Regions from separate parts of the Homo sapiens genome. Here region 2 is linked to region 1. The links come from fine-mapping of genetic effects on gene expression. A gene starts in region 1. The other region holds a variant in brackets. All regions are shown on one strand. Distances are from middle to middle. Region 1 holds the start of PPAN (peter pan homolog). Region 2 has its middle 14 kb from the start of DNMT1.

Region 1 (5,372 bases):
CATGCTAAAACCCCGTCTCTACTAACAATACAAAAATTAGCTGGGCATGGTGGCATGCGCCAGTAATCCCAGCTACGCGGGAGGCTGAGGCAGGAGAATTGCTTGAAGCCAGGAGGTGGAGGTTGCAGTAAGCCGAGATCGAGCAACCGCATGCACTCCAGCCTGGGCGACAAGACTGAAATTCCATCTCAAAAATAAATAAATAAATAAATAAATAAATAATAAATAAATAATAATAAAGTGAGGAATTAATTAATTAAAATAAAAAATAAATATAAAAGACACAGCTGTAAATTTTTAAATTGTGATAGAAACAATATATTCTTAAAGTGAAAACCCTACCTCAGTTACATGTGATTTATGTTTTTTGGATTAATCTGGATTTTATAATTAGAAATAAAAATGTAAGGCTGGGCGCGGTGGCTCACGCCTGTAATCCCAGCACTTTGGGAGGCCAAGGTGGGCAGATCACGAGGTCAGCAATTCGAGACCAGCCTGGCCAAGATGGTGAAACCCCGTCTCTACTAAAAATACAAAAATTTGCCGGGTGTGGTGGCCCATGCCTGTAATCCCAGCTACTCAGGAGGCTGAGGCAGGAGAATCGCTTGAACCCGGGGGGCGGAGGTTGCAGTGAGCCACTGCACTCCAGCCTGGGCGACAGAGTAAGACTCTGTCTCAAAAAAAAAAAAAAAAAAAAGAAAAGAAATAAAAATGTAAGATTTTGAGTCCACATAATTATTTGTTGAAAATAATACAAGTCAGTATAATAGAGAAGCATTCATATATTCAACACTGTGAGACAAAACACCAGAGACCTTGGATTTGATAATTGATCTGATATCCTGGACAGTATTCATATGTACAGTGATAGCTATCTTTCTTTGGTGTTTTTTTTGTTTTGTTTGTGTGTGTGGTGTGTGTGTGTGTGTGTGTGTGTGTGTGTAGTTTTATGGTTCTGAGTTGGTGGCCAGTAAGTTCCATGTAGTGTTGGCACTTATTTAATTAACTATTCATGATTTTGTTAATAGCTTGTTATAGAATTCAGGCATATATTTTTCAGCATAAGAAGCCAAGCACACCAGCTTGTCATTGGAGAGAATATATTAAGTGAGAAAAACATTCAGGAATCAGAGCTTTAACATGTTAAAGTTAGTGCTAAACATTGTCATATTGGATCTGAACCTATCCTAATATATAACCATAAAGCTTGACTTCTGCATTGGAACTATGCTTTCATAAATAAAGGATATCTCATTGATTAAAAAAAATTTTTAAAAAGACACAGCTGGAAACATAACAGTTTCAGGCAACAACTGTATGTTCCAAATATGGTCACACACACATCACAACTTAAAGGGAAATGGGGTGGGCTGAGTGGGTCTTTATCTGTGTGTCAGGCTTGTCCACATCCTGGTTCTTGTGATCACACAGTAGTGCACAGATACAAAACAGGTACACACAGTTGACACCCGGAAACCTATCCACCGCACCACAGAGGTCACCGTCTGTCTCCCACACACTCGGTCACATTTTCACACAAGTCAAATCACACGAGGACGGAACTGGGGGAAGTAACCATGCAGTCATTTCCCAGGGGTACAAAGAAACTCACATAGAGCCCCACAGAGCCCAGGCCCAGGGTCTGAGACCTGTCCAAAGGCCCCACCGACGACCAGCCACACGCCGGGAGAGTCACCTCCTTCCCCTGGTCTGCACCATCCTGAGCTCCCGAGTAACTCGAGTGGACTCCAGGGTTGAAAAAGGAAATGGTCGTCCCAGATCTGAGAGAGGCTGCCAGGCTGGGCTCTGGGCCTGGGTTGGGGCCCCCACACTGGGCCCCTCGGCCCCCCACCCTCAGCCCCCTCTGGCTTCCCCATTGGCAGTAGAGAGGGAGGGAACTTCATAAGTCACAGAGAGGGGCTGAAGAATACAGAGAGTCAGACAGATGGAGATGGGAGAGGCATAGGGAGATGGGAGAGACATAGGGAGATGGCAGAGAAAGGGAGAGACGGGGAGATGGGGAGAGACAGAGAGAGATGGGAAGATGGGGAGAGACCACAGGGAGGCAGATGAGAAGAAAGAAACAGGGATGGGGCCAGACACAGAGAAAGGAAACTTCTTTAGTTTCCATCTTCAGTTATAAATGATGAAAGAGACAACTGATGACAGAGACAAAGTTACAAGAGGGAGAAAGAGACAGGGGGAAGACGAGGGGGAGGGGAGACACATCTGGGGGAGAGGAGGAAGAATTGGGGTGCCAGAGAGAGCAAGGAGGGAGAGGAGGCCGATGGGGGAGGAGAGAGTAATGTTCAGCCCAGTGAGGGGGTGTCCCTTTCCCCCACTGCAAGGTTTTGGGGAAGAAGCCAGAGGCCTGAGGCCAAGACTGAGGCTTTGAGCGGAAAGAAGGAGGGGGCGAGTTATTCACGAAACGCCCGCCTTGCCCTGAGTTTCCAGAAGGTGATGTGGAGTTTCCATCCCTCAGCCTGTCTGCAGACAGGGGTACCCGGGGAGGACAGCTGGCCCAGAGGAGTTGCGAGACTAAAGTGAATGATTGCCACAGTCATTCCCTCCGGTGGCTTCTCCCCAAGTACTTGGCGCCAGAGCGCCCAACATTGTGCATACATGGTCGCTCCTAATTCGTGGGCCCGGGGGACATTATCAGCCTTACTTTGGGATATTTTAGGAGCCTCGGAATGCAGAAAGTGGTTTTAGCCCAGCTGGAGGAAATGGGCCGAAGCGGGATTCGAACCGGCGGATTCGTTTCTCTGCAGCCCGGAGCCGCGTAGCCCCGCCCCGGTCTCCCTAGAAACAGGCACCCGTGTCTCCATAGCAACCGCTCCATCTGATTGCCCCTCCCCGCTCCCAGAGGCCACCTAGTGCGCAGGCCCGCCTGATGTCGTCCCACGCCGTGCCGGCTCTCAGGCGCCGGAAGTGAGCTGCGCAGCGCCGGAAGCGGCGGACGCAGGAGGCCTCGTGGAGGACACAGCAGCATGGGACAGTCAGGGAGGGTAAGGCCCGGCAGCTTGGGAGGCAGGTGGCGCAGGTGGGGTCCCGGCCGAGGTCGCGGCGCTGACCCTTTGTCTCTCGTCGCCGCAGTCCCGGCACCAGAAGCGCGCCCGCGCCCAGGCGCAGCTCCGCAACCTCGAGGCCTATGCCGCGAACCCGCACTCGTTCGTGTTCACGCGAGGCTGCACGGGTCGCAACATCCGGCAGCTCAGCCTGGACGTGCGGCGGGTCATGGAGCCGCTCACTGCCAGCCGTCTGCAGGTTTGTACCCCACCCCCAGCCCGCCTCCACCCACCCTCGGCCTAGTCTTCGTAGCTGCAGTAATGGCTCCCGCTGTAAAACTGTGGGAGGACTTAAGTCTCCCCAGCTGGAAAAAAAGACCCTCATGGGGAGCATCATTTCTGCCTTTCAGGGCTTTTGCTGGGCTGGAGTGAGGGCGCGCAGCTTGGGAGATAGATAGTCGCCTAAGCCTGACAGTTAAGACTGGAATCTGGAGCCGGGCGTGGTGGCTCATGCCTGTATTCCCAGCATTTGGGGATGCTGATGCGGGAGGATCACTTGAGCCCAGGAATTCGAGACCAGCCTGAGCAGCATGGTGAAACCCCGTCTTTACAAAAAATAGAAAAATTAGTCGGATATGGTGTTGCGTGCCTGTAGTCCCGGCTACTCGGGAGGCTGAGGTGGGAGGATTCCTTGAGCCCAGGAAATTAAGGCTGTAGTGAATCGGGATCGTGCCACTTCACTCCAGTCTGGGCGACCGGAGGAGACCGTGTTAGAAAAAAAAAGACTAGAATCTGGAGGCAGCAAAGCAGGGTTGGAAACTGACTTCTCCCCAGTATCTGATGCAAGTTACTTAACCTCTCTGGGCCTGAGTTCGCTCATTTGTCAATGGGAAGATGCGCTGTGAGCAAGAGACAGAGTTAGAACTCAAATCTGCGTCCGACTGACTCTAAAGGCTAAGATCCTTTTGCTCCTCTGGGCTTGTTGAAAGGGTCAGATGCAAGACAGACCATAACAGGATCTGCACCGTCAGCTTATAGTTGTCACAACAAGGGATAAGCTATGTTTTCTTTTTTTCTTTTTGTCATTTCCAGGTTCGTAAGAAGAACTCGCTGAAGGACTGCGTGGCAGTGGCTGGGCCCCTCGGGGTCACACACTTTCTGATCCTGAGCAAAACAGAGACCAATGTCTACTTTGTGAGTAGACGCCCTCACCCTTCATCTCCCCCAGACCCCCCCTTCCCCTATCTCTCATGATGAACACATATGCCTCTGAGCTGCTGTGATTTCTGGCTTCAAAGTAAACGCTCTGAAGAAGAGATGGGGCAAAGGTGCCTACTCCGGGCACCTCTGCTAGACCCCTCCAGAGTCACTGATCTTTTCTTCTCCTGCAGAAGCTGATGCGCCTCCCAGGAGGCCCCACCTTGACCTTCCAGGTCAAGAAGGTGAGAGGGGTGGAGGTGGTACAAAGCCATGTGGGGTGGGAGCTGGACTTGGGGTTGTCCGCAGCCATGTGTGGTTGGTGGTCACCCCCTCCTCTCTCCTGTCCTACAGTACTCGCTGGTGCGTGATGTGGTCTCCTCACTGCGCCGGCACCGCATGCACGAGCAGCAGTTTGCCCACCCACCCCTCCTGGTACTCAACAGCTTTGGCCCCCATGGTATGCATGTGAAGCTCATGGCCACCATGTTCCAGAACCTGTTCCCCTCCATCAACGTGCACAAGGTGGGTCTGGCCTGGCGAGGTGGCAGGTATGGGGGGGTGCAGCGGATAGAGGTGCCACAGGCCCTCAGATGGATTGCTCACTCCTCCCAGCGCTGAGACTGGGAGCTCCTGGGTCTGCTGAGTCCTGAGGTCAAATCCCACTCCTGTGTCTGATGATGCTGGGCAAAAGTGTCCAGAGATTCCCCCAGCGGTCCACACCCCGTGAGCTGCACCTTTTCCAGCCGGTGGAAAGAAATACTGATGGAGCTCTGTTTCCCACGTGTGTTGAGTGCTGGGCTGAGCAGGATCGTAGCATCTCTTCTTAGGGCCCTGTTTTACAGAGGGAAGCTGCGGGCCCAGTGCTATGGCTTCGGCCTGTAATCCCAGTACTTTGGGAGGGCGAGGTGGGAGGATCGCTTGAAGCCAAGACTTTGAGATCAGCCTGTGCAACATAGCGAGACCCCATGTCTACAAAAAGTAGATTTTTAAAAAGCCCGGTGTGGCGGTGCATGCCTGTAGTACCAGCTACTGGGGAGGCTGAGGTGGGAGGATCACCTGAGCCCAGGAGGTCAAGGCTGCAGTGAGTTGTGTTCACGCCACTCTACTCCATCCTGGGTGACAAAGCGAGACACTGTCTCAAAAAAAAAAAAAAAAGCAAATCTG
Region 2 (5,372 bases), 100 kb after region 1:
AAAATGTAAATGAAAAGGAAAGATCTGCCAGGCCATAGCTCCTTGCTTCCCAGGCCACATTCCAGGGAGGCCAGGAGAGGCCCAGAGACCAGTCTAACCGAGGTCCAGGCAGCCCAGAGCACGAAGGCTGGTGGAGAGCTGGCCACGTGTCCTGAGCTACGGTCAGTCAGAAGGCTGAAGGTGAGTCATCCCAGACACCGTGCTCAGTGCCAGGCCCATCAGAGGCCCTGGGCAGGAACAGCAGCACTCAGTAACAATGGGGACACTTTACCACCCTTACCCTGGAAGGGCCTCAGAAGCACTCTCTCCAGGCTCGACTTGCCTAAGCTAGGAATCAGATCTGCAGAAACCCAAGTCCCATAGCGTGTGCTGGGTAGAGCCGCCTACTCCTCGTGGGGCCTTTGAGCAGGCAGACAGCTCTCTGTTGGGGATCACAAGAGGCTTGCTGCCAAGCCCTGTGGGTTTTTCCTTCAAAGAGCCCTTGAGTCAGCTGATCTGCCCCTCCTGGGCCCCTGGCCCAGGTCACCCTCACCTTTCTGCTGGATGCCTGCCCAGCCTCATTCCTGGGCTGCTACTTGGCCCCCTCACCATCCATTCACCACGGAAGAAGTTCATCAGAACCCAAATCTGATCATGTTAGCTCCTCCCTACCTCACCGAATCCCCTGAATGGCTTCTCAGGGCTCTTAGGGTAAACCCAACCCTACCTTCTCCGCTGCAGCCCACAAGGCCTCAGTGCCCAGCCCTGTCTTGTCCTTTCAGCTCCTGCTGCCCACCTATTAACCCACTCCACTTGAGCCACATCATGGACAGTTCCAGCCTCTTTCTGCCTAAGACATGTGGTGGCCAGCCTCCAAGAAGGCCCTCAATGTCTCTTGCCTCTTGGTATTCATGCCCTGCCAAGCCTTCTTCCATAGTCAGGGCCAGTTTATGTGGCCAAGAGAAGGTGAGTGACTTCCAAGGCTAGATCATAAAAGGCATTGCAGCACCACCTTGTGTTCCCCAGGAAACCAGCCGCCATATTGTAAGGATGCTCAAACAGCCCTGCAGGGAGGCCCATAGGAAGAGAAACCAATTTATCAGCCAGGTGAGTGAGCCATATTGGAAGTAGCTGCACTCCAGCCCCCATCAGACCTGCAGATGGGTGGAACCACAGATGATATGTGACTGTAACCTCATGAGAGACGCCTAACAGAGCTGCTCCCAAATTCCCAGCCCACAGAAACCACAGGATATAATGCATGGGTGTTGTTCTGAGCCACTGGGGTTTGAGGCTTGTTGTTAATGCAGCCATAGATATGTATTGCAAGGCTTCTGCATGTGCTGTTTCCTTAGCTTGGAAAGTCCTATTCTACACGCCCAGTTCTCCTGCTTGGATAATCTACAATTATTCTCCCTATTGTGGCTCAACCATGACCTCCTTCAAGGAGCCTTTCCTGACCTCCCCTAGCCCTTTCAGGTCTTTGTTCCATGGTCTTTTAGAAGTCAGGCCCTTTCTTTCAGAGCCTTTACCCCAGCTGTTGATCATATATTTTGAGATTTACATCAGCCATACCCCCACCGATGCCCAGTGTGTAGCAAAGCACCCAGGATGTAGTTAGCACCCAATAAAGTGTTATGGAGCCCTACACAGATGAGAGAGGGTACGAAGCCTGTTCTTCCCACATTAAATGCTCAGTTTACAAATATCCATCAAAATTACCAACAGGCTGGGCAGTGGCTCACACCTGTAATCCCAGCAATCTGGGAGGCCGAGGCAGGTGGATTTGCTTGAGTATAGGAATTCAAGGCCAGCCTGAGCAACATGACAAGACTCATCTCTGCAAAAAAAAATACAAAAATTAGGCTGGGTGGATCGCCTGAGGTCAGGAGTTCAAGACCAGCCTGACCAACATGGTGAAACCCCTTCTCTACTAAAAATACAAAATCAGCCAGGCATGGTGGCACATGCCTGTAATCCCAGCTACTTGGGAGGCTGAGGTAAGAGAATCGCTTGAACCTGGGAGGCAGAGGTTGCAGTGAGCTGAGATCACGCCATTGCACTCCAGCCTGGGCAACAAAAGCAAAACTCCCTCTCAAAAAAAAAAATTAGCTGGACATGATGGCAGGCACCTGTAGTCCCAGCTACTCTGGAGGCTGAGGTGGAAGGATCACCTGAGCCCAAAGAGGTTGAGGCTGCAATGAGCCATGATCACACCACTGTGCTCCCACCTGGGTGACAGAGTAAGACCCTGTCTCAAAAAAAAAAAGACAACTCAGACACATCACATATCTAAATACGAAAGCAAAGTCAGGAAAGCTTTTGAAATAAAACACAGAACATCTATGTGACTTGTGGACAAGCAAGTGTTTCTTCGGCAGGACACAAAGCACATTAATAAAAGAAAATATGCTGGACTCTATGAAAATGAGTTTTTGG[GT/G]TTTTTTTTTTTTTTTTGAGACAGGGTCTGTCTCCCAGGTTGGAGTGTAGTGGTGCAATCACAGCTTACTGCAATGTTGGACTCCTGGGCTCAAGTGATCCTCTCACCTCAGCCTCCAGAGTAGCTAGTAGCTGGGGCTATAGGTATGCACCACCACACCTGGCTAATTTTTTTTTTTTTTTGGTCGACACAGGGTCTTACTATGTTGCCCAGGCAGGTCTTGACCTCCTGGCCTCAAGTGACCCTTCCACCTTGGCCTTCCAAAGTGCTGGGATAACAAGTGTGAGCCACCATGCCCAGCTGAAAATGAGTTTTGGTTCATCAAAAGATGCCATTAAAAAGGAAGCCACAGACAGCCGGGCACGGTGGCTCACGCCTGTAATCACAGCACTTTGGGAGGTCGAGGCGGGTGGATCATGATGTCAAGAGCTTGAGACCATCCTGGCCAACATGGTGAAACCCTGCCTCTACTAAAAATACAAAAGTTAGCCAGGCGCAGTAGTGGGCACCAGTAATCCCAGATACTTGGGAGGCTGAGGCAGAATTGCTTAACCCAGGAGGCGGAGGTTGCAGTGAGCCGAGATCGCGCCACTGCACTCCAGCCTGGGTGAGAGAGCAAGACTCCATCTCAAACAAAAAAATAAAAGCCACAGACATACGTCTGACAAAAGACTCATACCTATAATACATATAGAACTCCTTCAACTTAATGACAATCACTTTTTTACCAAGTGGCTAAAAGAGCTAAATAGGCACTTCACAAAAGAGGATGCCCAGATGGCCAAGGCTAACGTGGGAAGCTGCTCAACTTCATTAGTCATCAGGGAAATGCAAACTCAATCTGCAATACAATATCACCCTCACACGCACACACACAAATGAAAAAAAAATTTTTTTCAAGTATTGGCAAAACCAGAACTCTTCTATGCTGCTGGAGGAAGTCTCAAATGGTATAGCCGCTTTGGAAAATGATTTGGCAACATTTGCTAAAGCCAAGTCTACTGCTGCCCAGGACCCACCAATCCCATGCCTGGAATGAGTGTATATATCTACCAATTGACATGAACAAGGAATGTTCATAATAGTTTACTCACAATAGCCAAAAGCTGAAGACTACATGAACAATAATAGAACAGATAAATAGTTACTTATTCACATGGAATATTATACACAAGGGTCATAAACTTTCTTTTTTAGAGGCAGGGTCTTGCTGTGTCACCCAGGCTGGTGTGTAGTGATGTGATCATAGCTCACTGCAGCCTCAACCTCCCAGGCTCAAGCAATCCCCCTGCCTCAGGCTCCCAAGTAGTAGCTGAGACTACAGGCATGCACCACCACACCCAGCTAATTTTTTTCTTTTTTTGTAATCCCAAAGAGTTGAGATTACAGACATGAGCCACTGCGCCCAGCAAAAAATAAAAAAAATCAAAATTTAAGTTAGCTGGGCATGGTGGCACAAGCCTGTGGTCTCAGCTACTCGGGAAGCTGAGGTGGGAGGATCGCTTGAGCCCTGGAGATAAAGGCTGCAGTGAGCTATGATTATGCCACTGTACTCCAGCCTGGGCAACAGAGCAAGACCCTATCTTAGAAAAAACAGACAAACAAAAAAAGTGAATTTCAAAAACCTTATGCTGTATGAAAGAAACCAGTCATAGGAGGGTACATACTGTGTAATTCTGATTATAGAAATTACCAAGGCACTTATCTTCATTTTTCTCACCCACTTCAAACTTAGGCTTCCTTTTTTCCTTCCAGGCCACTTACACCCTGCCTTCCTCCCTCAACTCTTCCCAGCCTCCTTCTGCCTGCCAGGGTCCATGACATGGCCATTGTCCATGAAAGCCACAAGCCCTAGAGAAAAAATGCCAGTTACAGGCCAGAGACTTGCCCACCTCCTGGAGAATGACGTGAAAATACACAGCGTCTGCTCCTGAACTGCAAAGAAAGTTTCCCTGTCTACACTGCGGTGAGCAGGAATAAAAGCTAGGCCTGCCCTGGCCTTAAATTAAGCCAGAGGGATGTCACGTGAGGAGACTCCTTCCTGGAAAAGACCACCAATTAACCACAGCTGATTCTCCAAAAGCAATCTGCAAGTTGGGGATCATTAGTTGGTGCAAAGGTAATTGCGATCTTTGCTATTAAAAGTAATGAGCTGAGTGCAGTGGCTCACGCCTGTAATCTCAGCACTTTGGGAGGCCAAGGCGGGTGGATCACGAGGCAGGTAGATCACTTGAAGCCAGGAGTTTGAGACCAGCCTGGCTACATGATGAAACCCCGTCTCTACTAAAGATACAAAAATTAGCTGGACGTGGTGGTGGGCACCTGTAATCGCAGCTCCTGGGGAGGCTGAGGCAGGAGAATCACTTGAACCTGGGAGGCGGAGGTTGCAGTGAGCCAAGATCGTGCCACTGCACTCCAGCCTGGGAGACAGAGTGAGACTCCATCTCAAAAAAAATAAAGTAACATACTCATTTTATAGATGAGGCCAGCTGACAGTTGTCATGTGCCATCCCCAAAAGCTACTTGGGTTGTTGAGTGTGGGATGTGAGATTCAAATCTGCTTTTCCTAACTTGATAGTATGCACTTTTAACAGTTATGCCACCACAATTGCCGACAACAATGAATCACATCCGACCCACTTCATTTCCCTTTTTTTGGACAGATTTGTCTATTCTTGGATAAGACATTCAAGGAAGGGTGGTGGTATTGCTTTCTTTGAATTTCTTATCCGAGAATAGTTAAATCTGTCCAAAAAAAGGGGGAAGGTGGTGGTATTGGGTGTCTGAATTTTGGGCAAGTATGTCAGCTTTGTAGACAAATGGGAAAAAATGGCTAGATATGAGGATGGAGAGACGGTTTAGAAACCGTTTGTAGGTTTTTTGTTTGTTTGTTTGTTTGTTTGTTTTTAGAGAGGCAGTCTCACTCTACTGCCCAGGCTGGAGTGCAGTGGTG

The links. PIP is the estimated chance that this variant, and not a neighbour inherited with it, causes the effect.
Region 2: its variant is the best candidate, but not a certain one, in a credible set for the expression of PPAN in whole blood (INTERVAL, PIP 0.62).

Annotation. Positions count from the first base shown.
Region 1 is chr19:10,103,405-10,108,776 of GRCh38, forward strand. PPAN (peter pan homolog) reads left to right here and starts at 2,958. Exons shown (of 12, transcript NM_020230.7): 1 at 2,958-3,008; 2 at 3,097-3,267; 3 at 4,101-4,202; 4 at 4,400-4,450; 5 at 4,560-4,730. The coding sequence starts at 2,991. It overlaps PPAN-P2RY11 (PPAN-P2RY11 readthrough), which reads left to right and starts at 2,958. Exons shown (of 13, transcript NM_001198690.2): 1 at 2,958-3,008; 2 at 3,097-3,267; 3 at 4,101-4,202; 4 at 4,400-4,450; 5 at 4,560-4,730. The coding sequence starts at 2,991. SNORD105 (small nucleolar RNA, C/D box 105) reads left to right here and starts at 4,247; the gene lies at 4,247-4,331. It also overlaps a transcript of ANGPTL6 not described here. RefSeq lists enhancers at 2,595-3,238, 2,835-2,884, 4,527-5,170 and a silencer at 3,105-3,154.
Region 2 is chr19:10,206,251-10,211,622 of GRCh38, forward strand. No RefSeq gene overlaps it. Among named protein-coding and RNA genes, the nearest start is that of DNMT1, 14 kb to the left of the region's middle. The variant GT/G (reference allele first, on the strand shown) is at 2,419.